Regions from separate parts of the Homo sapiens genome. Here all the other regions are reported to be linked to region 1. Evidence: microRNA targets listed by miRTarBase, many of them from high-throughput screens and not tested one by one. Region 1 holds a microRNA gene; each other region holds the end of a gene's coding sequence.
What was found. Region 1 holds the annotated microRNA hsa-miR-1266-5p (CCUCAGGGCUGUAGAACAGGGCU, at 4,957-4,979, opposite strand). A microRNA usually pairs through its seed, bases 2 to 8, with sites in the 3' UTR of a target mRNA and lowers its output. Matches are read on the target gene's strand: a 7mer-m8 pairs with bases 2 to 8, a 7mer-A1 pairs with bases 2 to 7 and ends in A, and an 8mer does both.

Region 1 (7,822 bases):
TTAAAACCCCCTCAATAGCTCTGATCCCATTCCCTTCCTGATAGGAAAGCCAGTCTGTCAGCTTAGCCTATTTCAAACAGTTTTCGTACTCTAGAAAGAGATACTTGCTTTTTAAACTATAAGGATTTTGTAAATCCCCCAAATTAAAAAGTCATTAACCTTTTCCTGCAGACATACAACTCACCTGATATTACACCTATTCATCCATCAATTTTTAATAAACAGAAAAAAGAATCCAAACTGCAAATGAAAGACAAGAAAACCCTACTCTTCAACTCACAGCATAGTGTAGCTTGCCTGAGTATGTATAATAAGTATGTAAATGTAAATAATGCTCAAAAAGTTGGGGAAAAGGAAATTTAATACTTACTTGAAAGACAACTCTGGATTTCTCCAGGAGGTAAGTGCTCATGTTGGCTCCTATAATTTGATTTTGTTCATCAAAACTGATTTCTGTGTATTTCCCAAACCGACTACTATTGTCATTGCGGGTGGTCTTGGCATTTCCAACGGCCTAAAAAAAATAAGACTCTATTGAAATAACAACATTAAAAGATTTTTGCCTCAAAATTATTGGAGGGGTTTTTAGTAAAAGGCAATCCTGTACCCTAGGGGAAGGTCTGATTGGCAGAGGGAAGTCTGGGGAAAGAAAGCAACCCCACGCTGGCAGGGAACATGACAAATCAGAACATGAGCCTGCTGCTCAAGGTTCTCCTTGGTCCCACTGGCAGATACTGGGGAGGACCAGAAAGAGCACAGGTTCTGATGTTTCAGGGTCCTGGGTTCTATCTTTGCTATCTGTGTAATGTCTTAAAAGTTAATTCACTGGCTAGGTGCAGCGGCTCACGCCTGTAATCCCAGCACTTCAGGAGGCTGAGGCAAGAAATTCACTTGAGGCCAGGAGTTTGAGACCAGATGAGGCAACACAGTGAGACCCCCGTCTCTACAAAACATAAAAAAAAAATTAGACAGGCATGGTGGTGTGTGCCTGTAGTCCTAGCTACTCAGAAAGCTGAGATGGGAGGATTGCTGGAGCCCAGGAGTTGGAGGCTGCAGTGAGCTATGATTGCACCACCGCACTCCAGCCTGGGTAACTTAGCGAGACCCTGTCTCAAAAACAGACAAACAAAAAAGTTAATTCATCTTTCCAGGTCTTAATTTCCCTATCTGTAATATGAGAATCATAAGCAACTCACTGTTATGGACTGAATGTTTGTGTCCTCTCAAAATCTTCATGCTGAAATCCTAACCCTATGTATTGGTATCATAAGGTGGGCCTTTGGGAAGTAATGATGTCACGAGGGTGGAGCCCCTGGGAGTGGGATTTTAATGCCTACATAATAGGGATCCCAGAGACCTCTCTTGCTCTCTTTCTGCCATGTAAGGGTACCGTGAGAAGACAGCAGTCTGCAACCCAGAAGAGAAGCCTCTCTAGAACCTGACCCCTGCTAGCCCCCTGATCTTGGACTTCCAGCCTCCAGAATTGCGAGAAATAAATTTCTGTTGTTTATAAGCCACCTGGTCAATGACACTAAAGTATATTATACTAAAGTACATTATATTTATTATTATAATAGCAGCCCAGACTGACCAGAACACTTACAGAGTAGGGAGGATTAAATGAGAGAATATGAGGTGCCTCAACTCATTCAGGCCCCAAATACCTATGATGCTCAACTAGAAGTTCACATCTTTCATCCAACCTTTATTCCAATCCCTACTCCTTACTGCTTCCCTACTCAACCTTTCCACTCAACCAAAAAACTGCTCCTTCCCATCCCTCACACTCTCTGGGCAGGATTTTTGCTTTTTACTTCTGTTCTTCAATTTCATCTCTCCTCTGCCCCTCCCCACCCTCTCCTGAGCACCCTGTTTCTAGATGACCCAGGTCATCATGCTGCCTGCCAACATGTCTTTACTGAGCACCTACTATGTGCCATGCGCTCGGTAAACAAAGGTAAACCAAATAGATACAGTCCCGCCTTCATGGAGTGTGCAGTCTAGTAGAGGAGACAAACCCTAAATATTTACACAAAATTATCCACTGGGCATTTAACTTGGCACTGGCTCTTGATAACTTTTATTTTGAGATGGGGTCCTGCTCTGTCATCCAGGCTGGAGTGCAGTGGTGCAATCTTGGCTCACTGCAACCTCCACCTCCTGACTCAAGCAATCTTCCTACCTCAGCCTCTTGAGTAGCTGGGACTACAGACATGTGCCACTATACCTGGCTAATTTTTTGTATTTTTGGTAGAGATGGGGTTTCATCATGTTGCCCAGGCTGGTCTGGAACTTCTGAGCTCAAGCAATCCACCCACCTCAGCCTCCCAAAGTGCAGGATTATAGATGTGAGCCACCGCACCCAGCCTTGATAACTTTTCTATTGGTATCTTGGATTGTAATTTATGTTTCTAAGTAAGCCTATGCCTCTGAATTATGAGCTTTGCAGTGTTTCTTAGTACCCCCCCCCCGACATATGTTTCTATTTAATTTTAAAATATTCTTACATTAGGTTAGAAGAATCTTACACTTGGAGATTGGGTCTTATTCTTTTCCATCACTTCCCACATTAGCTAAGCAGTGACTTCAACAGAGTAGATTGTCTGATAAATATTCATTGAGGATTTTGATTTGAGAAAACAGGGAGAAGAGGTCTAGTAGTCTAATATTCTTAATTTTTTGCTTTGCTTCCAAATAAATTCAAATCAATCCTCTTCCCATTTTGCGGGGCAGCTGGAGTTGGCTTGCAGGACCCTCCTCTGTGCCTTTTGGGTGCCTCTTCTTCCTTGAGGGCTGTCTCCTCACCCCCCTGGGCACCGTCACGGTTGGCCTTGCCCACTCTCTGTCCCAGTCAGTAGTGTGCTGATGAACTGGCTCTTGGGGAGGGCAGGAGGAAGAGTCTTGACATGTGGCCTCTGCCAAGGCAGAAGGTATAAATACTTCTCCCCTGACTGATGTCAAACTACCAAAGGTTTATCAATCAGCTTGCAAAATTCCTGAATATTTTAACAATCAGCTCATGAATGCTGATGCCAGCTGGGTGGAGAACACCAGTGATTTCAGTGTACCAGTGATGTTTGGTTTCCCCTGGGATGTAAATGTAAACAGAGGACTCCTGGAGTCTGATGGTAGATTTCCAGCCCAGCAGGTAGAGCAGAAGAGAGCCTTGAAAGTAACAATTCTGCCCCCATCTCCTTCAAATCCCACCAGCAAATAGGCTTCCCGGGTCTTTCCTGCCCTCACTTCTTTAGTCTTTAAAGGGTGGGAACTTGAATTAGCCAGGAGAGCACACAAACCAACCAACCCCCATTTCCATCACCAACACCCAGCTGCCTTCCGCAGTGGTACGCACCTCGGTGATGGGATTGGATGCCAGGACCTTGTCTTCCACGTGAGCGTTGCTGCCCGATTTGCTGACGGTGGCAAAGTACCTCATGGCATAGCGAGCCGACACTGTCTTTCCAGCACCTGACTCCCCACTTACAATTATGGACTGGTTTCTGTTGTTTCTAAAGCAAATAAAAGTTTTCAAATATTAGTTTCTTCCCATTAAAGAGGCAACATGTGCTAATTAAGACAAATGTGGACAAGACAAAAGAGGGAAACTGTTTTGTCACTCTACTATTTTTAAATCTCAATCAATTTCCTTCTAGATTTTTTTTTCTATGTGATCGTGCAGAACACACAATTTTAAAAGTTCACATCTTTCATCCAACCTTATTCAAATCCTTACTCCTTACTGCTTCCCTACTCAACCTTTCCACTCAACCAAAAAACTGCTCCTTCCCATCCTTCCCACTCTCTGGGCAGGATTTTTGCTTTTAAACTCTGTTCTTGAATTTCACCTCTCATTTCATCTCTCCTCTGCCTTCCCCACCCTCTCCTGAGCACCCTCTTTCTAGATGGACCCTGTGTAGGTCATCATGCTGCCTGTCAACATGTATTTATTGAGTACCATGTTGAGGGGCCCCAAGACCAACCTCAGGTTCAATGACCCAGTAAGAGGACTCTCAGGACTCAGCATATAGTCATCCTCACAGCTAAGACTGATTGCAGCAAGAGGATACACAGCAAAAGCAGCACGGGGAAAAGGCACACGGGGCAAGGTCCAGTGGAACACGGGTGCAAACTTCCAGGGGTCCTCTCCCAGTCGGGTCACACAGGACACATTCAATTCTTCCAGCAAGGAATTTGACAGCACATGTGAAATGCTGGCTGCCAGGGAAGCTCATTAGAGATGCAGTGCCCACCTTCTGCCTAGCATATGCCAATATTCCAGACTCCCAGAAGGAAAGCACGTATTCAGCATAAAGCACATTATTTACACAAACAGCTTGAGTTTAGGTAAAATGAGCCACTTTTTCAACCAAGAAATGTCAGGAACCGTCATGAAATCAGAGGCTAGCCATGGGCCACCTTGCAAGCAGGCCTCTAAAGATAGCAGCCTCAGGCCTTATGTCAACTCCTTTCTGCACATCCCACTTAAATATAAAAACATTTCAAGGACATTATTTTGAGAGCAATTATTCAAAAGATGCTTGGGAACATATGCGCTCTCTAAGCCAACATGCTCTGTTATATAATTTAGAGATTTTTTAAAAATGCATTAAACTTTTCATGTCATAAGACTGTGATGGTGGAAGCTTCTAACATGGCTCTGTGGATGTGGCACCGCTCACATGCCAGGTGCTGGGTGAATACAGATTCTCATTTAAGCTTCACAAAAATCCTACGACATAGATATCTCTTTTACAGAAGAGTAAAATGGTGACTCAGGGGTGGAGTGACTTGACCCAGAGCACAGAGCCACAGCCTCCCATGTAAATGCTAGAGGAGACTTTGGATACAGAGCCCCGGTCCAATATTTTCATTTCAAAGAGAGAAGATGAAGACTCTGAGAAGTGAAATGACATGCTCAGTGTCCCTCAGGGCATAGAACAGGGCTTTAGTAATCCCAGCCCTGTTCTACAGCCCTGAGGGACACTACCTGTCTAGCATCAAACAAGGCCAACACGAGCCTGCTTTGGGCTCCGTTCTGTTATGGCAGTTACACAGACAGACCTCCAAGGAGAAACTGGCTCTTTAGGGCTGAAGTGAGCACAGCCCTACAGTGCCAAAGAGCTCATCCCACCCATACCCAGTCCCTAATCACCACGATACCTGGGAGACCTACAGGGAGCCAGGGAAAAATCTCAGAACCACAGGGGTTTTAGGGTTAGAAGGAATCTTGGTGCAGCGGAAGCTGCTAATTCTCTACCCAGTATGCATTTGCATTCTCCTCTTCCTTCTTAGGGACTAGGCCCCAGTGGCCAGGCAGTGCCCCTCTGTGCATTTGAAAGACTGCACATCCCAGCCTCCCTATGTGAGTGAGGTCTGCCTGACGAGCTGTTAGAAGTGCTTTGTGGGGCTTCCAGAGAGTCTCCTTAACCTGGAGGGCCATACCCTTCCCCTCATATGCCTTGTTACCTAGAATATGGAAGACAGAGGTGAGAACTGGCTTGTCCCTGAGGATGACGGCCCCACCCCAGGGACAGGGAGCTGCACGGCACCGGGTCTCTGATGACTCTGAAGAAGCTCGGTCTAGCCCCAGACTGCCCATCAGACATCTGTGCAGGAAAGCAGCACGTGTTCTACCTCATGTAAGCACCACCTGCTCCCTCATTATAAGCATCAGAACCAGGAATGGGTGCCCTCTGAGAGTCCAGCTCACAGACGAAGACATAAAGCGGAGGGAGCTCAGGAGCTGCGGCTGGGGTTATGCAGTAAAGATTTAGGTAAAGAGTCAGCAGGTCCAGGTCCTGTGCCTCAGATTTCCCATCTGTGAAATGAGGGCAATGAAGTCAGTCAACTTCACAGGAGTGCTGTAAGACTCAAGGGAGACCACTGTATGTGAAAGTTCTTTTGCAAACTGTAAAGGCAGCTACAAAGATAGGGTGGTGTTTCTATTCTCCATACTTTACAGATGAAGACACTGAAGCCAAAAGTGATAGTTATGGGAAAAATAAACTAGAGTTTAAAAATCTGAGCACAAATCCCAGATCTGCCTTTTACTTGCTGCCTACCCTGGGTTGGTTATTCCCTGAAGCTGTTTACTGCCCAGACATTTGCATCGTGGGCTATTCTGAGGCCATCCCAGATGACACATGGGAATGTGTGCACGGTGCCTCATTCACAGGAGGCTTTTCATACATGTGCACTAGTGAAACGAGAACTCCACAGGGCCCTACAAACACCTAGCAGTGAAATTAGGATAAAATTCCATGTCTCCTGCACCTAAAACCTCCTGCAGCTAAAAACCCTGTCATCAGATCCTACTTCCTGCAATGGGTAAAAAAAAAAAAAGCTTAAACGTCTCATAGCAGAGAATAAATCAACACTCCTCCAACCAAACACACTGCAAGAAAAGCATCTGCTATTCCCAGACTGGTAGGACTGACTTGACTACCTTGAAGGAACAAAACCCAGGAAACTCCAGTCTTGACAGGTCAGGTACATGGAACAGTCGTTTGCTATTCATTCCAGGTAGTCGGCTCAACAAAGCACCACCTCTGGCCTATCTCTTTTAATGAGCCCAACCTAGATATCTCCCCTCCACTGTGATGGTCTGGCAAATGCAGGGAGCATTGGCAGAGCAAGGGGAAGTCCAGCTTGGCAGGAAGCTACCTGGCCATCTGCTTGTATGCCTCTTCTGCCACGGCAAATATGTGTGGGTCCATATCGCCCATGTTCTGCCCGCTGTAGGCGTGGATGATGGCATCTCCGTATATTGGCAACTGCTTGTAAGGATTCATGGCCACCAAAATGATTCCTGGGGAAAGATGTTAGATGCAGTTAAAATACTCTTACTGCCACCTGCATCTCCAGTTTTTTTTTTTTTAAGAAACCCCAGCTCTGTCGCTTATTAAACCTTCTGTGTGACTTTGGGCAAGTCACTTCACGCACTGAATTAATTCCCTGCCAGTCACCTACACCCTCGGGCTGTTCTGACGGTTGGTTGACAGGACAGGTGGAAATGCTCGCAAATGGAGAGGTTTTTGCAATTTGCAGTGTAAGTAATATCATTGCCCAAAATAAGTAATAAATGTATGAAATCTGATGAGAAACTCAAACACGAGCTTTGTTACATCTCTTTTTCTAGGTAGTCCAGTCTTAGTTCTTGTTGAAGATTCTCCCCACCCAGACACTTCTTTTTACAACAAACTCTGGGTGCTCAGTATAAACATAAAACAACCAGGAGGCTCTAGACAGCAAGCTTACATTCCAGTGCCATTCCTTACTTCCTAGAATTGCTCTCCTTACCACTGTAGGTGTAAATGAGTTTGGATTCTGCAAAGCGGATTCTGAGGTTGTGGAGCACCGCGGGCTCGTGAAGATAGCTGAGAGCCGTGAGGTCATTCTCGCCCACGAGGATGTCAGGATTCCGAAGTGGAGGCAGAGATTCTGGATTGACAGAATAATCCAGCTCCTATGGACAAAGATAAAAATTAAAGCTCTGGAAATAAAAGATTTTTGGTGTTTCTGTTGAAGCACTGTCCTTTGTCCTATCCACCCCTCCATCAGAGTCATCACTGACATTAAAAAGCAAATGTACTTATAGCAACAAGAAAATCTTCACAGCTGACTCCTGGAATAATGAAAAGTAGGAGCAGGGGACTAGGGCACTGGCTATGTGCACTGGGGCAAGTCACTCACCCTCTCTGGGCCTCACTTCTCTCATCTGCGAAGAGGAGCTAGAGCAGGGGTCCTTAGATCTACAGAGGCCTCAATAAGGAGTGTTGGGGAAGCTACAAGGGCAGAGATCCAGGTGCCCCATTCCTGAATC
Region 2 (7,822 bases), not on the chromosome of region 1:
CCTGCTCTTTCTGAGCAGATCAGTGAGGCAATGACCCCAAAGCGGGGCTGCCCAGAATCACCACAGGCTTCCTTTGGCTCTCCACCTTGCCCCAACCCCTCTGGCCACTGCTGCCTGGGGGTCTTTCTCCAGCTTGCCACATTCTTGCTCAAGTGTAGTTTAGCACCATGGATGGACAGCAGATTTGAATTTGAAATCAGCCCTAACATTAACTAGCTGGGTGACTTTTAGTAACTTTCTTTCTTTGAGCCTTAGTTGCCTCATCTATAAAACCAGAGTTGGACAAATAGATCAGCTTTGCTGGGGTTGATAACTTCAGGCCCTTTCAGGAGTCAGGTCCCTGTTATTCCAGGGCTAGGGGAGCACTCCAGCTCAGAACGTTACTCTGTAGCACAGGATGCGAATCATCCACTGATACCGTGGCCATGCAACTCTGAAACAGACAGCAACCCCCAAACCCCCGGCCCTGCCACCAAGCACATCTCAGGAGACCTCCACTGGTATAATTTCCCTTGTCCCTAAGAATCTCCTTCCCCAATCCCTTTCCTTTGCAGTTAGAAAAAGGCAAGCAGGACTGAGTTTAGTGGTTTTAAAATTAGGGGTGTGGCCAGGCACAGTGTCTCATGCCTGTAATTCTAGCACTTTGGGAGGCCTAAGCAGGCGGATCACTTGAGCTTAGCAGTTCAAGACCACCATGGGCAACATGGCAAAATCCTGTCTCTACAAAAAAATACAAAAGTTAGCTGGTCATAGTGGTGTGCCTGTGGTCCCAGCTACTCAGGAGGCTAAGGGGGAGGATGGCTTGAGTCTGGGAGGCTGGGAGGTGGAGGTTGCAGTGAGCCGAGATAACACCACCACACTCCAGCCTAGGTGACAGAGCCAGACCCTCTCAAAATAATAGTAATAAATAATAATAAAGTTAGGGGTGATCAGGCCCTGAACAGGGAAATGTTCTGTCCAAGGTCACAGAGCAAAGAGAACCCAGGTGTCCACAACTCAGCCAAGAGTCTTGACCCCTGTGTCGTCAGCTGCACACACGCTGCACACTCCACCAGCTCCTAGGCTTCTCTCCACATCTGACTTATCGAGGCCTGGGCTGTGGGTAGCTTTTTGGACAGAAAGAAGCAGAAAGCAGCAGGAGCTGCTCTCCGAGGACCGCACCTCAAAGAGCAAGATCCCCCAGGTGGGATCGCTCTGAGGCTTCAGGCAGGGGAGGCTGGTTTGAAAGCCGATCTCCAAGAGGGCGTGGCTCCAAAATGCTGGCAAATAAAAGCCTGGAGAGCCAGCACCAAGCTGGAGACCAGCAGGAGGCACAGGAAAACTGCAAGCCGCTCTGTTCCTGGGCCTCGGAAGTGGTGAGCTCGCTGAGGCAGGAGGAGCTCTGGGGAGGGTCTGGGAATGTGGACGAGGGCCCTGCAGGCCAAGATGGGGCAGATGGAGGGAGGAAGATGTTTGCGCTCCAGATGGCGAAGAAAATTCCAGGGAAGGGAGAATCACTGCACAGAGGGCTGACACACAGGTCCTTTCCAGAGACAGCTGCTCACACTCACACCCATACACACACACACACACACACAAAGGCAGATACAGGGAAAAGGCAGCACCATTCAGGCACACCTCACCTGTCAGACCAGCCAGCCCTGGCTCACTCACCTGGAATGCAGTATTTAAAGAACTCGCCATCCCACCTGCACACCCACGTAGAGACATCTCCCCACTGTGTTTCAGATGCCTATGGCGTCCCCTCAAACCCTGGTCCTCTATCTGCTGGTCCTGGCAGTCACTGAAGCCTGGGGCCAGGAGGCAGTCATCCCAGGCTGCCACTTGCACCGTGAGTACCTCTGGGACCGGAGGGCTAGGAGCAGTGGAGGTTCTGGGTGGGAGCAAAGAGCTGAGTGGACGGTGGGGCAGGCAGCACCCTAAAGGGCCCCACACTGAGGCACAGGCAACGGGAGCTGGGGCGAGGCAAACCTTGGCAGAGGCGCCGTCTACTGCTTGCCTATCTCCTTCTAGCCTTCAATGTGACAGTGCGAAGTGACCGCCAAGGCACCTGCCAGGGCTCCCACGTGGCACAGGCCTGTGTGGGCCACTGTGAGTCCAGCGCCTTCCCTTCTCGGTACTCTGTGCTGGTGGCCAGTGGTTACCGACACAACATCACCTCCGTCTCTCAGTGCTGCACCATCAGTGGCCTGAAGAAGGTGAGGAGGGCCCGGGCCCGGTGGATGGACGCTGGGGTCGCGGGAAGACCAGAGAGATGGAGATCCTAGACAGCCCTGAGAAAGGGGACTGCAGCACGGACTCCCCTCTCCCGCAGGTCAAAGTACAGCTGCAGTGTGTGGGGAGCCGGAGGGAGGAGCTCGAGATCTTCACGGCCAGGGCCTGCCAGTGTGACATGTGTCGCCTCTCTCGCTACTAGCCCATCCTCTCCCCTCCTTCCTCCCCTGGGTCACAGGGCTTGACGTTCTGGTGGGGGAAACCTGTGTTCAAGATTCAAAAACTGGAAGGAGCTCCAGCCCTGATGGTTACTTGCTATGGAATTTTTTTAAATAAGGGGAGGGTTGTTCCAGCTTTGATCCTTTGTAAGATTTTGTGACTGTCACCTGAGAAGAGGGGAGTTTCTGCTTCTTCCCTGCCTCTGCCTGGCCCTTCTAAACCAATCTTTCATCATTTTACTTCCCTCTTTGCCCTTACCCCTAAATAAAGCAAGCAGTTCTTGAATTTCTCTCTTTATTAAGTCTACCCCCAGCCACGGAAAGAGGAGTAGACCATGATTACTGTGAACCCCCCCTTACCCCAGGACACTGTGAATCTCTTCTTGCCTGTGCCCTCCCCCTCCCCCTGCCCAATAAATAAAAAGGGGACAAGGAAGTACACAGCGAGGGAAGGGAGGAGTGTGCACCCAGGACAGTGTCTGTGTAGAGGGTGAGCTGGGCGAGAATAAATAGACCATGGACCCCATGGTGGGGATAAGGAAGGACCTCGCATTGGCCAAGGCAGGGGCAGGCGAGGCGCTGAGTGCCCTTGCCCAAGGCCAGGAGCAGAGGGTGGGAGCCCGCCTGCAGCTGGAGCCTAGCTTTGCGGGGCAGGGGAAGATCCCTGATGGCAGCTTCCTGGTCAAGCTTGCCCTTGTCAAGTCCTGCCACGAGGGGCTGAGCATTCTGTTGCCAAGACCACCATTGCCTCTCCTCGTCTCCCCCCAGTGAAAGCTGGGCTGGGCAGGGAGTCCTCAGAAGCCACTCTGGCAAGGCCAGGGGTAGGTGTGTTTCTCTCTGGGCCCCTGGACAGGAGAAGGGATAGAGGGACTGACAGCTCTGGGTTTAGCTTTTCCCCTTCTGAGGTGCTGTCTAGCTCTGACCCCCACTGGCGGCCACCTGGGGTGTAAGCCGCTGGAGGGGGGCCTCCTTGGCCCCCTGGGTCCCCTGTAGCCGGCGTAGCCGCAGCTCCTCCAGACCTTGCCATAACTCCTGACGCTCCTGGGCCTTCTGCTGCTCCCTGGGGAGAGAGGGTGAGGCAGCTCCCTTTCCTGGGGCCCCCCACAGTCCAGACTCCCTCACAGTCCAGACTCCCTCACTACCACCCCACCGGCAAAGGGAAGGCATGGAACCATTTTTGTTCTGTGACTCCATAAAAACCCTCTACTGAGGGAAGAGAGCAGAGGACAGACAGATCCCAGCCTGCAGTCACAGAGAAGATGACGGGTGGGGCCTGAGTGGTTCTGGCTTCTGTAGGAAGCTACAGGGAGTCAGAACAAGTCTGAGCTACTCGAAGAATGACGGGAGGATACAGGGGCAGACAGTCAGGCATAGGATGGCAGGAGCATGGACAGTCTTGCAGCATCTGATCAGACAGAGTTTGGGGTAGTCCTCGGGTTCCCTCCAGCCATGGGGGTCTGACTCCTCCCTGCTCTTCTCCCTTCCCCCACGCCCAGCCCCCAACACTCACTGCTGCTTTTCCAGCTTGTAGGAGGCTGTGAGCTCATCAAACAGCTTCCCATTCATCTCCATGAAGGTCTTGAGCACATTGTAGATCAGTGATACGATGGTTCTTGGCAGTGTCAAGGAGGGATGAGGAGATGAAACAGCTTTGGTTTGCCCACCTCTCCCTTTCCCTGCCCTTCACATACAGCATTCCACCTGAACACAAGCACTGCCCACTTTCCTGTCCTTTTCACCACCCCTGGGCCATCTTTTGATGCTTTCTCTGATATTCTCCAGCTAGGAGTAACCCTGGGGTCGGGTCTGGACTGGCTGGCCCTGGTCCCAGTTTCTGTGAGTTAGGTCATGGCCTGGCACTCACTGGTTCCAGTGCTCCTTGGAGACTTGGTAGAGGGTCCCAAACACAGCAGGCAGCACAGTGTGGCAGTTGTCCTCAATGAGGCTTAGGATATACTCATTGTTCCAGAAATACAGAGCCCGCTCTGCAACCTGGGGCAGACAAGATGGCAGAGTGATTAACTGGCAGTGGCTTCTCTCTGTGTGCAAGGTCTGGTGTCCATCACTACCTCAACGCCCAGGCCCCCTGACCTTCACACACCCCACCTTCAGGGCTTATCTGAGCCCTGGAGGAAGCAACAGTGTTGAAGGGAAAAGAGTTCTAGATACGGAATCCAATGCTGCGGGGTGAATCCTAACCACTACAGACTCTACTATGCCATGTGACCTTGGGAGAGGCATTTAACCTCCCAGCCTCAGTTTTCTCATCTGTAAAATGGGCTAATAATACCTATCTCAACAGGATGTTATAAGAATCAAATGAGATACTAGACTTTTAGGTGTTTAATGAACCGAAGTGCCAGAATCACTGTGAGGAAGACTTGACTTCCACTGGGTTATGGCCCATAAGAACGGGAGGAAGTCTGCACATGCTTGCAGCAGAACATGAGTTAGTTAGCTGGGTTGGTGCGGGGAAGCCTGGCTGCATCCCAAAGCGAGTCTAATGAAATCTAAGGCCACTAGCAAAAGGGGAAAAGTGATAACAGTCCTCCATCACATTCTGGATCACACTTCAGTTTACCAAACATGTTTACACTCACAATCTCTTCCATCCTTATCCCCACCCTGTGAAGAGGTTGTTGGCCCATTTTACAGCTGCGGAAGCTTAATCAGAATCAGAGTGGTGCAGTGATTTGCTCAAGGCCCCTCAGCCAGTGGAAGGCAGGTCCGAGGCTTCACCCTAGGTCTCCTGACCCTAAGTCCAGCATCTCCCCATTACCAGACCCGGGATTGGAGGAGAAACTGAGGGCAAAGGGAGCTTTATTAGGTCAGCTACCCAACCTTTCCAGGCCAGCCCTGCTCCCATCCCCGCCTGTCCTGCCTCATACCTGGAAATGGGGGCTGGAAACACAGCGAGCCACCTGCTTAAAAAGGGGCTCCTGGATCTTCACAAACTGGGAGGGCTCGATGACATCAAGAATCTCTTCCATCTCCCCCAGAAACATCACCTGGGTGGGTTGGGGAGGGGAGTAGGGACAGAGGGGCAGCAGCTCACATCTCCCCCTACACATACACACACCTGACTGCCTTCTAGAGGCCGAGCCCTCCCAGCCTCCCTCTGGCGGGCATCAAAGCCCTTCTTCATACCTCCTTCTGGGTGCAGGTTTTTGGCCAGTATTTGAGCAGCCCCCGGATCACCTGTGGGAGATGAGACAGGAGTCACGCCTGCAGAGGTGAGAGGCTGCCTTAGCCCCCAGAGGTACTCACGTGCTCTGTCAGAGTGGCATCCTTCTCCAGGAACTGCACCACACAGTATGCCAGCTGCAGGGGGTGACAGGTGGAGGGAAGGAAGACAGGTCAGGAAGGCACCAGGCGCCAAGGACTTGCTGTCCAGGACAGAATGCCAAATACTGCTCACCCACGGCCTGTTACTTTCTTATTCACCAAGCATTTATCACCTGCCTAGGATGTACCAGGCATCACATTCAGTGTGCTGGGAATACAACTCTGATCTCGCGGGGAGTGGGGACAGTCAACAAACTCATCTTTATAAATTTTGCAAAAGGTTCCATAATATGGCTAGTGTGGTGGCTCACGCCTGTAATCCAAGCACTTTGGGAGGCCGAGGCAGCAGAATCACTTGAGCCTGGGAGTTTGAGACCAGCCTAGGTAACATAGCAAGACACTGTCTCTACAAAAAAAAAATTTTTTTTAATTAGCCAGGCATGTGGCACATACATCTGTGGTCCCAGCTACTCGGGAGGCTGAGAAGGGAGGACTGCTTGAGCCCAGCAGGTAGAGGCTTCAGTGAGCCATGTTCATACCACTGCTCTCCAGCTGAGGCAACAGAGTACGGTTTTGTCTCAAAAAAAAAAATTGTGTATCAAAATCTCCCATAATAGATTTGTGTATCCAAATATTTGGGAATATAGATGGAGAAGAATGTAATTCTGCCAAGGGAGGGTAGAGAAGAAAAGCCTGGCTTCACAGAGCTGATATCTGAGGTTAGCCTTAAAGCGCCAGTGGGAATTTTCTAAGGTAGATGGAACAGAATTATAAAGACAAAGAAGGTGAGATAGGATCCCTGGAGGATCTGACCTCCAGGACCCACTGGCTGCCCTGACTGTCTGGAGCTCCTGCTGCAGCAGGGACAGGCCTGGGCCTCACCTGGGCATGGAAGACAGACAGCGACTTGACAGAGTGCAGGGGGATCAGGACGCGAACCAGGAACTGCTTGTGCTCCGTCTTCAGGGGCAGCGCAAAGCCATTGATGATGCTGAGGAGGAGGCAGAAGAGAGGAAGAGGGCTCAGGTGACCTGGCCCCAGTCCCTCCTTCCAGAATCCTGAGCTCCAGCTGAGGCCCAGGGAGAATCACCTTCCTAGGATCTCCAGCAGCTCAGCCACACCATTGAAGTGCTCGAATTCATAGATGAACCTGCAAGAGAAGAACGCAGGTGGGCTCAAAGCAAGCAGGGTAGGCCCAGTGCCCCCTTAGGCATCCTGCCTGCCCACCCTCACCTGCACGGCACGCTCATCCAACTCTCCCCCAACCCAGAGGCTGCGCTCCCTTCCCAACATCCCAAACCAGGCCCCATTGAGATCCCCGCCCCCCCACACTGAAATGCCCTTCTCAGCCCAGCCACCTCTGCCACTGAGTCCCAAGCTCAAGGCTCTCTTGCCAGTCAACCAAGAGAATGACAAACACTTAGCACATCTACTCCGTACCATGTAAGTCTCAGAATTATCCAGGGAGATGGGGCTTAAGAAATCCATCACATGGATGAAGAAATCAAGACTCAGCGGTTAAATAAAACAACCCCAATGTTAATAGGCAGGGAATCTAATGAACTCCAAGGTGCAGGAGGACAGGGATCATGGCTCACCCATTTTGTAGCTAATAACAACTAATGTTTCAGAGTCCCGGCCTCAGTCCAGGAGCTATGCTGAGTGCTTTGCAGGCAAGGCCCCATGTCACCTCGATAATGGTCCCTGAGTTAGTACAAGCAGCATCCCCATTTTTATCTTATCTTTGAGATGGAATCTCGCTCTGTCGCCCAGGCAGGAGTGCAGTGGCGCAATCTTGGCTCACTGCAACCTCCACCTCCCAGGCTCAAGCGATTCTCCTGCCTCAGCCTCCTGAGTAGCTGGGATTGCAGGTGTTTACCACCACACTCAGCTAATTTTTGTATTTTTAGTAGAGACGGAGTTTCACCACGTTGGCCAGGCTGATCTTGAACTCCTGATCTCAAGTGATCTGCCCACCTCCAACTCCCAAAGTGCTGGGATTACAGGCATGAGCCACTGCACCCAGCCAGCATTCCCATTTTAAAGACGAGCAAACTAGGAGAGAGCTTAAGTAATTTGCCAAAGTTCACCCAAACGTTGGAACC
Region 3 (7,693 bases), not on the chromosome of region 1:
GTGGCGGGCACCTGTAGTCCCAGCTACTTGGGAGGCTGAAGCAGGAGAATGGCATGAACCTGGGAGGCAGAGCTTGCAGTGAGCCAAGATCGAGCCACTGCCCTCCAGCCTGGGTGACAGAGCGAGACTCCGTCTCAAAAAAAAAAAAAAAAGATATTACCAAATCTTCCTCAAACTCCACATCCATTTGATATATACCCTGAATCATCCCATAAATTTTATATCTAAGATATCTGCTCCAAACACAATCTAAGTTCATCCTCAATACAATTTGGAATGCCCTGCCACTCTCTTCCACACAAGAATAGCTAGCAGAAGGGAGAGTAGAAGAGGGAAGAGTATAGGGGCATACAAATACTGCATTTATGAGCACCATCTTGAAAAGTGGCATCTCAGCTTTAATTGCCAAGGCAATGATCTATTGACATGAGAGTTGTTTATAGAAAGTTTCTTAGCCCATTTGTGCCACTATAACAAAATACCTGAGACTGGGGAATTTGTAAACAACAGAAATGATTTCTCACAGTTCTGGAGGCTGGGCAGTCCAAGATCTAGGTGCCAGTGCCAGTAGGTTTAGTGTCTGGTGAAGGTCTGTTCCTCATATATAGCACTGTCTAGGTGTCATCACATAGCAGAAATGACAGAAAGGGCAAAGGGGGATGAACAGTGTGTTCTCACATGGTAGAAGATGGGAAGAACAGAAGAGACTAGGCTAGTTTCCTCCAGCCTTTTTATAAGGAACTAATCCATTTATGACGGTGGAGCCCTCAGGATTTAATCACTTCCCCAAATACAATGGGGATTTAAGCTTTAAATTGAATTTTGGATAGGACACATGTTCAAGCCACAGCAGGAAACAATGTGAAATATGCCAAAGAATGGCATCCTCTTTACATGTTTACTTTTCCTGCATCCTTACCATCCCAGGTCATAATTTTTGGCTTGTTCCCTAAGATACTGGGGCCTGTCTTCATCTTGCTCATCTCTTCTTCCCACTTCAAATTAAATCAAGATTAATTTGCCTTGTCTTGGCATTCAGGTAAGTTGTAGCATTAATCAGTAAGAATAACCACCCACACAGAAAAACCAAAACAAAACCTTTACTTAAGTAGCTCACGGAATTGGAAATCAAAAGGAGGGTGAGGGTAAGGTTGATTAATCTACTTGTGTAATTATATATTTAAAGCTTCAGGCTCTTCCCTTCTTGTTTCTCTGCCATTCATGGCTTCATCTCAATCCTGGTCTTAGGATAATTGCTAATTGTAATTGCCACTGCATGCTTCTTTGTTTGTATCTCATGAGAGGGGAAGACTATCACTCTACTGCCTTTTTTTTTTTTTTAAAGTAAGGAAACGTTTTTTCAGGGTTTCCCCTCAAAAACCTTATGCTTATTGTTCATCACCAAAGGTGGCTATATGTTTATCCTGAATAAGACCAGAGTCAAGGTACTTGCTTACCAATATGCTTATCAATATTAGCCTGGTTACCTCTATTAACTCCAAGCAAGGATATTGGGACACCCATACTAGGTTAGACTAATCCAGATCCATCCCAGGAGCTGGGATCAATCCCTAAAGCCCTCTGGTGGATGAGGAAATAGATGCAAAATTAAGAAGTGGTAGAATCCATGTTGAGGAGACAACTACAATATCTATTAGTTAGGTAATGAGGATAATTTCCACTTAGTGGAAGGCATTTTTTATTTTAAAATCTCAAACTTTAATCTCAAGTAATAGAAAGTGTGCACTTCAGAATCAGCCAGATGCTACACATACTAGTTGTGCTACACTGGATAGTTCACTCACTGAGCCTTTTCTTGCATCTGTAAAATGGGGATAGCACATAGCTCACAGGATTGTTGCAAATATTTCATAAGGTAGTATAAGAAAAATAACTGATAAAACTACTCAGTAAGTGTTGGTTTCATTTATGACAATCCTTGTCTTTACTTCAAGAATAGTGGAGAATGGAAAAGAATCTTCCCACCCTCCTACTTAAACAGAAGCTAACAGGTAGAAATCAATAATTAAGGCCAACCAATGTAAAATTTTTTTCTACTTATATCATGACATTGTTCATGAAATACTATATACGAAGTACAGGAGAAAGGGTTGAAGTGCTCTGGAGAGGAAATCCTAAGAAGAACATGCTGAAGGTCTTTACAATACCATTGGCTGCTTTTAAGATTTTCTGGTTTTGAGCAATTCGATTATGATGAGCATTAGTGTAGTTTTATCTGTTTCTTGTGCTTCAATGAGCTTCTTGGAACTGTGGGTTTAGAATTTTTTAAAGTTTGGAAATTTACCATTGTTTCTTCCTATATTTTTTTCCGTACCTCTTTACTTAAAGAGACTTATTACATGTATATTAGGCACTTGCAGTTGTTTCACAGCTCTCTGATGGTCTTTTCATTTTTAAGTTATTGTTTTCCTTCTGTGTTTTATTTTGGATAGTTTCCCTTGGTATGTCTTCAAGTTTACTCATCTTATTTTTTGCAACATCTAATCTCTCATGATTACCATTCACTGTGCATTTCATTTCACACATTACAGATTTCATATCTAGAAGTTGGACTGGGATTTTCTTTATGTATTCTGTGTCTATATTTAACTTTTTGAACATATTGAATATAGTTACAATAACCATTTTACAATAACCATTTTAATGTCCTTGTCTGCTAATTCTAACTTCGATGTTAGCTCTGAATCAGTTTCACTTTTCCCCCTTATCATGTGTTATATTTTCTCACTTTTTTCATGTCTGATAATCTTTAGTTGTATACAAAATATTGTGAATTTTCCTTTTTGGGTCCTAGGTATTTTTTATTTCTACAGATATTCTTGAAGTTTATTGTAGGATTCAGCTAAGTTACTTGGAAACAGTTTGATTCTTTCAAGTCTTACTTTTAAGATTTCTAATGCGGGATTATTGCAGCAATTAGCCTTGGGCTAATTATTATTAATTACTAAAGTAAGTCTCTCCTGAGTGCCCTACCCAATGCCTAATGAGTTGTGAGATATTCCAGTCTAGTGGATGAAAATAGGCAATTTTCCTGGCTTTCAGTAAGTAATGGACACTATTCCCTCTAACCTTTCAAGTGACTCATTCCCCAGTGTTGGGTAGTTTTCTCATAGCCATGTGAGTTTTCAGCCATGTGCTGAAAAGTACTCAGCTAAATATTCAAGAGATATACCTACAGGTCTCTGAGCTTCTTTCTCTGTGCACCTCTTACCTGAGGTACTCTGTCTTATGAACTCTGCTATCTTGGTAGAGTTCAAAATTGCTAGGCTGTCAATAACTGTGTGCTTAAACTTTTCAACCTTCTTTCTATTGCCACAAAGCAGTCCTAGACAGAAAACTAAAAATAAAGTTACTGACAGGCTGTGTAACAGTCTTTATTCCAAATCTTTATAATGGTTACAAATAGGCATTCAAATAACTAAATTTAAAGTATTTTCCTTACCATTTGCCAAGGACATTATTTTTATAATGTACTTTAATTCTAATAATAACCCTAAAATACAGGAAGCATCATCCTTATTTTAGAAATGTAGAACCTGAGACTCAAAAAATTCAATTTGCAATTAACTTTGTATATGAGCTATTATCCTTTGTGTTTAGATATAAATAACTTTTGCATGATAATCATCAGTGAAACTATATTATTTGGTAATCTGTAAATACTGGGTATCAAAAAGTATAGGTGTATTTACAAAGTGCAATGCCAGACAAAAGCCAAGAGATATTCTCAGAGCTACAGCTAGAACAAAAACATTTGAGAAAACCTAGTACTTTTGAATAATAAAAAGGAGAGAATACTAAAAAATCTCAGATCAGTTTAATGTTATTGTCTGGTATAATTCTCAGAGAGTTGGCTTGTAAGATTTAGAAAGGAATATAATTGAAATATTTTAAAATTCCCATTTTTAGATAAATTTATTTGATCTGTAGGTTTGATATGGGCTTAGTATGTTTTGACTTCAGTAAAGCATTTGATAAATTTCCCCTCACCTTTATTTTGATATGGATAGAATGAAAAAATTGATATTTGATTCTTAAAGGAACTTTTTTTTTCTTTTTTAACAAAGAACATTGACAAATAACTTTACCAGCCTATAGAGTTGCCTCCTTTGATGGTAAGGAGGGCTTAGTCCTGCCTTGGTCAACACTTTTTCAAAAACTGAATTAAGCAATAGAAAGCCTATGAGGGAGAGTTATGTAATAATAGAACCAAGAGCCAAACTCTCAAGATATCAACATGCTGAGGGGATAGGACAAAAACCGATAAGAAATGGTTAAAAGGAATAAATGTAAAGATCTGTTCTTAGGTTAAAATTATACAAATAATGTGGAACTAAGAAAACAGAAAACTTAAAAATGCAGCAACAGCACTAAAAGTAAACATGCCTTTGTTTGGAATTCATCCACTCCCTCTCGCTCCCCACCTCCACACACTAAAATGACATGCTATGTATAAGAAATATCAAAAGCAAAGAGACCCAGAAAGAGTTTAATAGAGAGCATAGATTACTTGGCAAATAAGATGTGGAAATGTTGTAATGGTAAGGGTATAATGATCAATAAATGGCTCCATTGATTTTTTAGGCATTGGATAAAAATGGTTTCAGCAACAGGAAAGCAAAACTTTATGGATACAAAGAAATAAAGAATTATATCAGCTAGACTTTCTTGTTTTTTCTGTTTTTTTGAGAGGGAGTCTGGCTCTGTCGCCCAGGCTGGAGTGCAGTGGCGCAATCTCGGCTCACCGCAAGCTCCGGCTCCCAGGTTCACGCCATTCTCCTGCCTCAGCTTCCCGAGTAGCTGGGACTACAGGTGCCCGCCACCATGCCTGGCTAATTTTTTTGTATTTTTAGTAGAGACGGGGTTTCACCGTGTTAGCCAGGATGGTCTCGATCTCCTGACCTTGAAATCTGCCCACCTTGGCCTCCCAAAGTGCTGGGATTATAGGCATGAGCCACCGCGCCCGGCCGGCAGTAGACTTTCATACAGCTCTCTTATTCTCTGAATGAAGGAGACAAAAGTGAGAATATAGATTATATAAATAGCATAACTAACAATGTAGTCTCAGTATGTATATAACCAACTTTATATGCTTAAATCACAATTTGCAACTTCCTTTTTATTGACCATGAAACATTGACATAACTGACCGTATACTATACTAGTCCACCAAGAAAGCCTCAATACATTTAAAAAACCAGAGATGTATGATCCACATTGTTACAACATTTGGGAACGTTCTTACTAAATTAGTATGATGCAATCTCTTGCCCATTACTTTTAATTGACAGTGTAATTTAAATGACTAATTTTACATTAAGATATCTATGGAACACATAGAATAAAATATATAAATTATACAAATTTTTAAAGATAAAGCAGAAGATTCAAAGAAACTGCACTTAATGGGATGACTTTGAGTTGTCTCCTTTCTCCCTAATCCTCAATTCTTTTAGGGGAATTGGGCCCAAAATTTTGTGAAAAATTATGTGTATTTATTTTCATAGTTCAGTAAAATCTAGTCAGTGAATCCCTACTAAAATGGAGTTAATAGACAAAGAAATTTCTCTTACAATAGCATTTAAGAGCTTGGGTCAGGTCTTCAGAGGAAGATTTTTAGAAAGCAGGCATGTCCTGATTTTCCTCAGGACAAAAGAAACTGCCTATTCAGCTATACCCTGAGCTTCTCTGGACAAAGGCTGAGTCTTACCTACTTTTCTATCCCCATTGTTTGGCTGAAGGCTTGTTCCACAGTAAGTGCTCTTTAAATGTGGACTGGACATGTAATGTAAGCTTCCTCTTACCTGTTGGCAAGTAAGATGGATTTAAGGACATTGAACTTCCCCACTTCTGTCATGGTTTAGCCCCAACTAACCCTCAGGGAGTAATTAGAGGAACATGTCTACTCCTAGGAAAAATCAGTGCATTCCCACGTGCAGTGGGTTGCCCTTCCCACTGGTGTTTATAGGGTTCTGAGTGGAAATTGAGTGAGAGGGTGCCTGCGGCTCTAGCTTGCAGCGGGAATTCAAGAATCGATTTGACATCCCCTGTTCACTTTTTCCTACTTTGTTTCTTCCAGGTGTGAGGAAAGTTCAAGAGGGGAAAAAATAAAAGACTAGTGACATAATTTAAGAAAAGGATGATTGCAATGCATCCTGAAGCTGCCTATCTCCAAATATTCTCTCCTATAGGCAGGGCCAACAGGTATAAAGGGGAGCAGTCAGTGGGCTCTAAGGATGAGTGGAGGTAAAAACCTGAAGGAAGATAATGTCCCTTAGAAAAGTATGTGTGCAAATTGTCTAACTAGATTTGAGAGATGATTCATAAGAAACAAATTTGAGAATTATTTTATTAAGAAATATATAGTGTCAATTACAAAGGAACATGTACATTTTCAAAAGTGTTCACAAAATAAATTAAAGTAGATTCTATAATTTATATGTATATTTATAGTAGCTGTAACAAAGGTACTTCTCAGGATCTACTTGTATATACCACTCTTGTCTGTTAGATAATATTTAAAACTTGGCTTAGAATACTTTCACAATACTTTGCTTGAAAATTATTTCAAATTGCTTCACTATATTTACAACTATTTGTGAAACCCCATTTGCTTTCACTTTCTTCTCTTGTAAATTTTTAGTTTAACACAAGAAGTGTCATTACATGTAGAAGGAATGTCTGTCTTTTAAATGTAAGTTTAGGTGCTATCATTGAGTTCAATATTTTTCCTTTTTCAGGGAAAAGAGTTCTCCTGCTGCACTTTTGGATTTTCCTCTTGAGCAATGCTTATGCAACTACAGCCGAGAATTACTGCCATGAAGCCAGTCATCAATGTTATGGAAGCTTCCCTCAACATTTGAGGAGTAGTACTTCCCCTGCATTATAAACTTACACAATAAAAACTTACAAAAGTAAGTTAAGAAACTCTTCTGTAATTAAAAGATAACTATTTGTGGTCTTCTTTGTCACAGTTAGAGTTAATGTTTCATCTACTTAATAAAGATGATTTATTTTGGTGCTGTGAAATATGACCATAATAAAGATGGTTTACTGTTGTTTCAGTAAAGGTCGATTGAAGCGACGCCACAATCCTTGTAATTGTGACACTTGTTCCAGACATTTATTGGTTGTGACTTTCCTTTTTCTCCTCTTCTTCATTGCCTGAGTAGCATTTATCTGCAGAATATAAGAATCAATAGTCAAAATTACTTTTCACTATCTTTAGTAACTGTTGAGAGCAGGTTTAATTGCCTTCTCTATGCAAATCCATCTTTCAGTGTGTCTCCAAAGCACCTGCTTACTATGTGCTAGCATGTGCCTTTTCCAGGGGAATGCCTTCCTGTTTCTGTACCCACCTACTTTTGCTTCAAGGCCAAGCACCACCTCCTTCAAAAAGCCTCCACTAATTGCTCAGACCTTGCTTTTGGAAACTCTTCCAGTACTTAAGAGTGTGTGTCATTTAACTTGGCTCTCACTTAACATGCTTTTCTTTATATTGCATCATAGGTATTCCCCATAGCACTGAATACAGTGTCTTAATCATAGGAAACACTGAATATTTGTTGAGTGATTAAGTAAATGAATAAATTGCTGATTTCAAGACCTCCCTGACAAGATCACAAGTTCCTCATGGGCAAGAGCTATCTTATACCTGTTTATAGACATCATT
Region 4 (7,822 bases), not on the chromosome of region 1:
AGCGGGGCGGGTTGGGGAAGGCGCCCCGGGAACCTGAACCTCCCACCCCGCCTCAGTCTCGACCACTCCTTAAGCCCCACCCCGCCCCAGGTAAGGCGCAGTCCACCCCCATTCCCAGTAGATTAACGCACAGGTGGGGGCGCGCTCGGGACATAGCTGCGCTAGGGGACAGCGCGCCCAGCCCAGTCGCGGGGGCGAGGAGCAGGGCGGGGCCCAGCAGGAACCCAGCTTTGTTAGCGATGCTCCCCGTGAGCCACGCGCCACGCGTACGCGCTTCCTCAATGGGGCCGGGCGTGGAGCCGCGCCCTGCGCGATTGGCCAAACGGGTGGCCCACGATTGGCTGAGACCCTGGCCCCCGCCTCCTCGGCCCCAGGAGGGTGGGGCGTGGGTGTGGGCTGCGCGGCGCGTGCTGCCCCCGGGGATCTTGCGCGCCTCCCGAACAGCCGTGTTGTCGCCAGGGCCGCGCCTTCCCTCCCACAGCGCGCGCTGCGCGTGCGAAGGTCTGGCGGCTCTTGGGACTGGCGGGGCTGCGCGCGGGGTTAGGGTGGGGGTACGGGAAGGCTCAACCCAGGACCTGCGTACCTTGCTTTGGGGGCGCACTAAGCACCTGCCGGGAGCAGGGGGCGCACCGGGAACTCGCAGATTTCGCCAGTTGGGCGCACTGGGGATCTGTGGACTGCGTCCGGGGGATGGGCTAGGGGGACATGCGCACGCTTTGGGCCTTACAGAATGTGATCGCGCGAGGGGGAGGGCGAAGCGTGGCGGGAGGGCGAGGCGAAGGAAGGAGGGCGTGAGAAAGGCGACGGCGGCGGCGCGGAGGAGGGTTATCTATACATTTAAAAACCAGCCGCCTGCGCCGCGCCTGCGGAGACCTGGGAGAGTCCGGCCGCACGCGCGGGACACGAGCGTCCCACGCTCCCTGGCGCGTACGGCCTGCCACCACTAGGCCTCCTATCCCCGGGCTCCAGACGACCTAGGACGCGTGCCCTGGGGAGTTGCCTGGCGGCGCCGTGCCAGAAGCCCCCTTGGGGCGCCACAGTTTTCCCCGTCGCCTCCGGTTCCTCTGCCTGCACCTTCCTGCGGCGCGCCGGGACCTGGAGCGGGCGGGTGGATGCAGGCGCGATGGACGGCGGCACACTGCCCAGGTCCGCGCCCCCTGCGCCCCCCGTCCCTGTCGGCTGCGCTGCCCGGCGGAGACCCGCGTCCCCGGAACTGTTGCGCTGCAGCCGGCGGCGGCGACCGGCCACCGCAGAGACCGGAGGCGGCGCAGCGGCCGTAGCGCGGCGCAATGAGCGCGAGCGCAACCGCGTGAAGCTGGTGAACTTGGGCTTCCAGGCGCTGCGGCAGCACGTGCCGCACGGCGGCGCCAGCAAGAAGCTGAGCAAGGTGGAGACGCTGCGCTCAGCCGTGGAGTACATCCGCGCGCTGCAGCGCCTGCTGGCCGAGCACGACGCCGTGCGCAACGCGCTGGCGGGAGGGCTGAGGCCGCAGGCCGTGCGGCCGTCTGCGCCCCGCGGGCCGCCAGGGACCACCCCGGTCGCCGCCTCGCCCTCCCGCGCTTCTTCGTCCCCGGGCCGCGGGGGCAGCTCGGAGCCCGGCTCCCCGCGTTCCGCCTACTCGTCGGACGACAGCGGCTGCGAAGGCGCGCTGAGTCCTGCGGAGCGCGAGCTACTCGACTTCTCCAGCTGGTTAGGGGGCTACTGAGCGCCCTCGACCTATGAGGTAACAGCCGGGAGGCAGGGAGGAGGGAGGGCCGGGGGCCGGGGTGGAGGGACGGGGTGGGCAGGCCCGGCGGGTCGCGCCCCCAGGAGCCCGCGGAGCCGAGCGCCAGGCCCGAGCGATGGCTTCGATTTCGCTCACTCTTCATTTCCCCCAAAGTTTTTCAAGCCCGTGCAAGACCGGCGTTTGTTTGTCCGGGATTGCAAAACTTCCCCTCGCGGCTCAGCCGCCGACGAGGGAGGGGTAGACGAGGGGAGGGGAGCGGCCGTCGGGCCGTTGAGGTCTCTAGTGCTGGCGGATCCTGGGGCAGATTGGGGTGCTGGAGGCGGGGTGACTTTGCATTGCAAATCGCGCTCCCGGGCCGGGGCGGCAGAAATGAGTCGGCGGGCGCGGAGCCCTGACTCACCGCGGCTCCGAGCGCCCGCCCCGCCCCCGCCGTGTCTCAGACCGAGTCGCGGCACCCACGGACTCAAGACTCCAAAACCAACCGAGCAAACGAAACTGCCGACTTCGCTTGGGGGAGGTGCGGGCAGGGCCGGCCCGGGCGGGGTCTGCCCCGGGCCCGCGCCCGCGTTGACGCGCGTTTGGTTCCCCACCTTCCCCCCGCAGCCTCAGCCCCGGAAGCCGAGCGAGCGGCCGGCGCGCTCATCGCCGGGGAGCCCGCCAGGTGGACCGGCCCGCGCTCCGCCCCCAGCGAGCCGGGGACCCACCCACCACCCCCCGCACCGCCGACGCCGCCTCGTTCGTCCGGCCCAGCCTGACCAATGCCGCGGTGGAAACGGGCTTGGAGCTGGCCCCATAAGGGCTGGCGGCTTCCTCCGACGCCGCCCCTCCCCACAGCTTCTCGACTGCAGTGGGGCGGGGGGCACCAACACTTGGAGATTTTTCCGGAGGGGAGAGGATTTTCTAAGGGCACAGAGAATCCATTTTCTACACATTAACTTGAGCTGCTGGAGGGACACTGCTGGCAAACGGAGACCTATTTTTGTACAAAGAACCCTTGACCTGGGGCGTAATAAAGATGACCTGGACCCCTGCCCCCACTATCTGGAGTTTTCCATGCTGGCCAAGATCTGGACACGAGCAGTCCCTGAGGGGCGGGGTCCCTGGCGTGAGGCCCCCGTGACAGCCCACCCTGGGGTGGGTTTGTGGGCACTGCTGCTCTGCTAGGGAGAAGCCTGTGTGGGGCACACCTCTTCAAGGGAGCGTGAACTTTATAAATAAATCAGTTCTGTTTACCAGTGGCTCCTATCACCTACACTTCCCAGGTGACGGCCAGACTTCCGTGGTCACTACTCCTCAAACCCTGCTGCCTCCTCCGTAGGGTGGGTCTGGGTGAGATCTGGAGTGCAGCCAGGCCGTTGATAGCGGAGCCATTGGGACACCTTGTGAGGCTGGGGGCATCCTCCAGGAGGTGGTGGGCTGGTGGGTTGTCCAGACAGGGCTACTCGCTGGCTTGGAAGCTGCAGGCTGGAGGCTGCTGACCCATCCCGAGGGCTGGGGTAAGTGCTGGGTGTGGGGCTAGGCTGAGGTGGTCTGACCAGAGAGCACCGGCTGTGGGGCTGAGGGCATGGGCTCCTGCGCAGGCCACCACGCTCAGATCTCCACTAACGTGGCAGCTGGGCAGCCCAGGGCAAGTGGGTTAACTTGCAAATGGGTTTGACCAGACCCACCTCAACGGCCTCTGGGAGGAGTTAGTGAGAGGTGCCTGGAGGCTGCCCTCTCGCTAGCTTTGGGTTTTGCCCGCACTGGGGAGGCCCTGCAGGTCTCCGCTCACCTGAATTCTAAGAGCGGCTCTTGAAAGGAACAAGGAAGGCTTGGAAGCTTTGCGCCAGGCTCCCCGCAGCCGGAGAGCTGGCACTGGGATATTACACGGCTATACCTTTGACTCAGGGCCTAGGAGGCTTTGATGTCTCACTGTACCGAAAGCTGCCTTTTAGTGTCCTGGTGGGGGAGGGGTTGTGGGGCTCCCCCGGTTTCTTTAGGGCGCAGAGGCACCCCTTCCTTCAGAAAGGAGTGGTTGGGACAGAGCCGTGGGAGCCCTGCGAGGTGGGAGCAGCTGGTGTTGTCCCAGAGTGGGTGGCTCCTGAATAACCACGGCAACAGGACACCCAGGCTACCGGGATGCCTGGGTCTCAAACGTCAGGCTGGCCAGGTCCCTTCTTATCAGAGGAGCTCAGGGCTCCTCTCTCGCCAGCTGCAGCCTCAGTCCAGGTGGGGGCTCCTCAGCAGCCAAGGTCAAAGCCGAGTCTGTAGCGGGGGTCAAAGGGGTCAGCTGGTCTGATGAGGACCAGGCTCAACTGGGGTCAGTGGACCAGCTGTGGCTTGGGGCTGCAGGGCTCAGGGAACTGGCCTTGGCCAAGGGACAGGAGGGGGCACATTGCCGTGGTCACCCAGGGAGGGACATCCCACAGGCTTCTCCCAGAATCCACACCCGGGTCGGTGGCCTCCCTGAGCCCTCCCCAGGACTCCACACCTTGACCTCAAGGAAAGGCCCACAGCTGCCAGGACCACAGGGGGCTGTTGGGTGGGTGAAGAGGGTAGGGGGGAAACGATGGAAGGCCAGGGCAGAGGAAACGACTGCCACCCACTGGCGTGAAGCGGACAAAACTCTGCAGAGGGTAAGTAGTGCTGCCATTTTTGTTTTCCCATTTTCCCATTTTTCATTTTATTATGGAAAATTTCAAACATACACAAAAGCACCGAGGCCTTTGTTGAGCAGTCTCTGTGCCAGGACTTAGGGTGCATCCGTGTGCCACACAAGCCCGTGCTCGTGGAGCCTGGGTCCTAGCAGTGGACACAGGATCCAACCGTTGTACAGTCTGGCCGGTGGAGGACGCACTGGGCTCCAGGGCAGCCCTGGGAAGCCTCCAGCACCAGTTTCAAGGCCCTTCCTGCCCCATCCATCCCCCACGCCATCCCTGCGTTGCTTTGAAGCAAATCCCAGACTTTGAATCCTTTCACCCGTCATGTTTCACGTGTGCCTCTAAAGGAAACCGCAAAAACATCACCCGCTCAAATGAACCACCGTTCTTTCATATCATCGGGGACCCAGCCAATGGCGCAGTCCTCAGGGGGTCTCGTGGTTTTGTGCAGTTGGCCTTATAGAATCGGGATCCGCCGCAGGTCCACACATCAAGTTTGCTTAATAGGTCTCTTAAGCGCCTTGTAAGCAATTTCCCTCCAGTGTCTTCATTGAAGAAGCGGAGATGTCTGTTCCGTTGAGCCCCCGTGTGCGTGGTGGTGTTGATGGCACCGTGCTGGGTGTTGTTATTGGGAGCCTGTCCCTGTATTTCCTGTAGGACAGGGTATGGGGTGCCAGAAGCGGACCTTTGATCAAGTTTGGGGTGGCCTGCAAATGGGGTTGACACCAGGCCCACCTAATGAGTGTGACAGAGATGCCAAGAAAGATCCGTTCCAGGGAGACAAGGGACTCCCTTTCCGAGTTTGCCTCGAGAACTACCCAGCAAGCTTGTGGAAACTTCCATAGACCTCACAGCGATCTAGGCCCAGGCTATCCCCTCGCCTTCACTGGGGCAGAATCGCGTCGTGGTCTAGTGGCTTCCCACCCGTTGCCACCTCCTTCCTGTGTATTTCCTTTCACACGGGCGTTTCCCCGAATGCAGTCCTTATCCAGTTCATCCCACTTGGCACCTGCTGCTCAGAGGATGTAGTGCTGCTGGACTGCATCTCCCAGGAGACAGGACTTGTAGCGACGATGTAACTTGCTGTCCCAGCGGGGACATTTTTGAGACTGGAAAGGGCTGTGGTTGATAACCAGGACCACAGGCGAGTCTCCTGGGCACAGTGGGCTGCTGATTGCCGTGTTATGAAGACCCCTCCCCACACTGTCATTCACCCAGTGCCCAGTAAAGATGAAGTGCCTGAAGTCACAGGCAAGCTGGTCCAACCCACCTTCTCTTGCTGTCGTTTTGTTTTAGGCTCTCAGCAGCCTAAAGTCATGGTTTTAGTTTCTGTCTCTAGTGATAAGCAGAAAAGAGGGATGAGGAAGGGACCCTGCTGGCTCAACCAGAAACAGAAACTAAGAATCCATGACTGTCTTCTCTCCCTTGGACTCAGCTTGAAAATGATGAGAATTGAGATTTAAGCCCTGGACTCTTTCACTTCCACATTCTTGCAATGTTCACGCCTTCCAGGAAGTGAGGCTGAGCCTGGCGGCTCCTTTGGGGACATGACATCCTTAGCAGTTCAGCATTTGAGATCAGTGAGCCTGGACAGAGCCTCACCTGGCCCAGGTGCCAGCCTGTCCTGGGCTCTGCTGTGGGGGCAGCAGGGCTCTGCTAGGAGCTCATGGTCCAGGCCTAGTCCCCACCTGGAAGTTAGAAACTGATTCCAGGGAGAAGGTGATCGTGATGTCATGTTCAAGGTGCTAAAATATAAAGCATTTTTCTTTCTTCTATAGTCAACCTCTTGACTTACTATTTTATACTTCTTATTTTATACTCACTATTTAATGCCATTCTGAGTAAGAAAGATTAGGAATTTAAGTGACTAGCGTGAATGTAGTTATCCATCTTTATATTATGTGATGCCAGTTTAAAATGCAAGCATAAGAGCATTTAACTTCTATGCGGAATCACTGGAATGACACAGTGTGTGTTTTGTCCTGGCACAGGCGTCTCTATTTCATTTGCTACTAGAACAGTGGAAACTGCACAAAAATGAAATCAGCTGATTTCACTCCTTGACGCAGGCTTGTTCCACCAGCACCCTCCACCTCCTGCTCGCTGATGGGCGAGGAAGGAGGGAAGGGACAAGTTCAAAGACAAAAGGCACTGTGGGTAGATCCATCAGCAAGAGACCTCGGCTAACACAGAGAAGTCGCACAAGTAAGAAAGGACATGACAGGTTCCCGGGTCCTGCACGTTTGTTAGAACACCACTGGCTTCCTGCTGCATCCTTAGCAAGTGCGGATTTGAATGGAAAACGTGGCTGCTCGGTGGCCATCAGCGCCCGGCTTGCTCATGCGTAGGTGTGACACGCTGCCTTGCACTGCTGTGGGTCCCTGGCACCTTTTCTGTGTGGCCTGGTGTCTGTGGGCATCGTGGATGCGCTACTCAAGTGGGGGGACGAGTGAGGGTGGATATACATTTGGCGCCTTGTGCACGCTCTCCTTTGCTTATGTGAGTGCTGCTGTATGCCGTTGGCCTGCACCTGCAAAACAAGTTAGAAGATAAAAGTAGTCAGATTCCAAAGGCCAGGCAAGGTGGCTCACACGTGTCATCCCAGTGCTTTGGGAGGCTGAGGCCGGAGGATTGCTTGAGCCAGGAGTTCAAGACCAGCCTGGGCAACACTGGGAGACCCCATCTCTAATAAAAAATAAAGCAAAATAAAAAATAAAAAAAGAACTTTAAGATGGCAGTAGCAAAGCATTAAACCAAGGTTGGGGCCCTGTTCATGGCGGGGCCTACGTGCCCTACGCTGGTGAAACCCACTCTGGTGCTACCCCTCAGAGCTGGGGCAGGGGGGCCATGTAGAGAAGCCCCTCCACATCACCTAATCTCTGCCCCACCCTAAGACAAGTGGAATAGTCAGATGGCGATCCCCCAAATGGAAGCAAGCTTGTCCCACTCAATGCAGAAAGGGATGGGGCAGGGACACTCGCTGTGAGCAGGGTCCCTGGTGTCCATGCACCTTCGCTTCTCCCAAAGTGGCCTTCAAAGACCTTCAGTCATCCCAGAGACCTCAGCAGCACAGCTGTGCCCAGAGGTGATTAGCCAGCCGGAGAGAGCCTTGGACAGAGCTAGACAGGGCAAGGTGGACGGGGTTGGAGGCGGCCTGCCCCTCAACGCCATGTCCTCAGCTGTAGCACGCACAGCCCAGAGGGCTTGTGGGGGGAGACCCAAACTCTGCTGACCCTTTTCCCAGCAGCGGGGCACTGGGGGAGGGGTGGTTCCTTTGGGGCCACACCTTCAGTCTTTGTTCCCATAAAAATCGGGAGTGGGGCCAGGTGGGCCCAGAGGCCTGTCCAGTGCTGTCCTGAGCCTGTGGGCTATTAGCTGGCCTTGAGCTCTTCGGGGTCTCAGGGGTGGCCCAGGTCCACCTGGGAGCCCACAGAAGCTGGGGAGGACCCTGAAGGCT

Region 2: the mRNA of GPHA2 is a reported target of hsa-miR-1266-5p. Seed matches in the 3' UTR shown: 7mer-A1 at 2,600-2,606.
Region 3: miRTarBase lists TSLP as a target of hsa-miR-1266-5p. Seed matches in the 3' UTR shown: 7mer-A1 at 6,494-6,500 and 7mer-m8 at 5,898-5,904.
Region 4: miRTarBase lists ASCL2 as a target of hsa-miR-1266-5p. Seed matches in the 3' UTR shown: 7mer-m8 at 2,809-2,815.

Annotation. Positions count from the first base shown.
Region 1 is chr15:52,272,210-52,280,031 of GRCh38, forward strand. It overlaps MIR1266 (microRNA 1266), which reads right to left and starts at 4,991; the gene lies at 4,908-4,991. It overlaps MYO5C (myosin VC), which reads right to left. Exons shown (of 41, transcript NM_018728.4): 3 at 7,300-7,465; 4 at 6,664-6,808; 5 at 3,353-3,509; 6 at 371-514.
Region 2 is chr11:64,929,367-64,937,188 of GRCh38, reverse strand. GPHA2 (glycoprotein hormone subunit alpha 2) reads left to right here and starts at 1,296. Exons shown (of 4, transcript NM_130769.4): 1 at 1,296-1,355; 2 at 1,729-1,831; 3 at 2,014-2,198; 4 at 2,315-2,718. The coding sequence starts at 1,729. The coding sequence ends at 2,416. It overlaps PPP2R5B (protein phosphatase 2 regulatory subunit B'beta), which reads right to left. Exons shown (of 14, transcript NM_006244.4): 7 at 6,808-6,867; 8 at 6,600-6,708; 9 at 5,700-5,753; 10 at 5,580-5,630; 11 at 5,321-5,440; 12 at 4,297-4,424; 13 at 3,943-4,044; 14 at 2,714-3,492. The coding sequence ends at 3,345.
Region 3 is chr5:111,075,453-111,083,145 of GRCh38, reverse strand. It overlaps TSLP (thymic stromal lymphopoietin), which reads right to left. Exons shown (of 4, transcript NM_033035.5): 4 at 5,120-7,200. The coding sequence ends at 7,072. Among named protein-coding and RNA genes, the nearest start is that of TSLP, 7.6 kb to the right of the region's middle.
Region 4 is chr11:2,263,634-2,271,455 of GRCh38, reverse strand. ASCL2 (achaete-scute family bHLH transcription factor 2) reads left to right here and starts at 868. Exons shown (of 2, transcript NM_005170.3): 1 at 868-1,723; 2 at 2,330-2,958. The coding sequence starts at 1,124. The coding sequence ends at 1,705.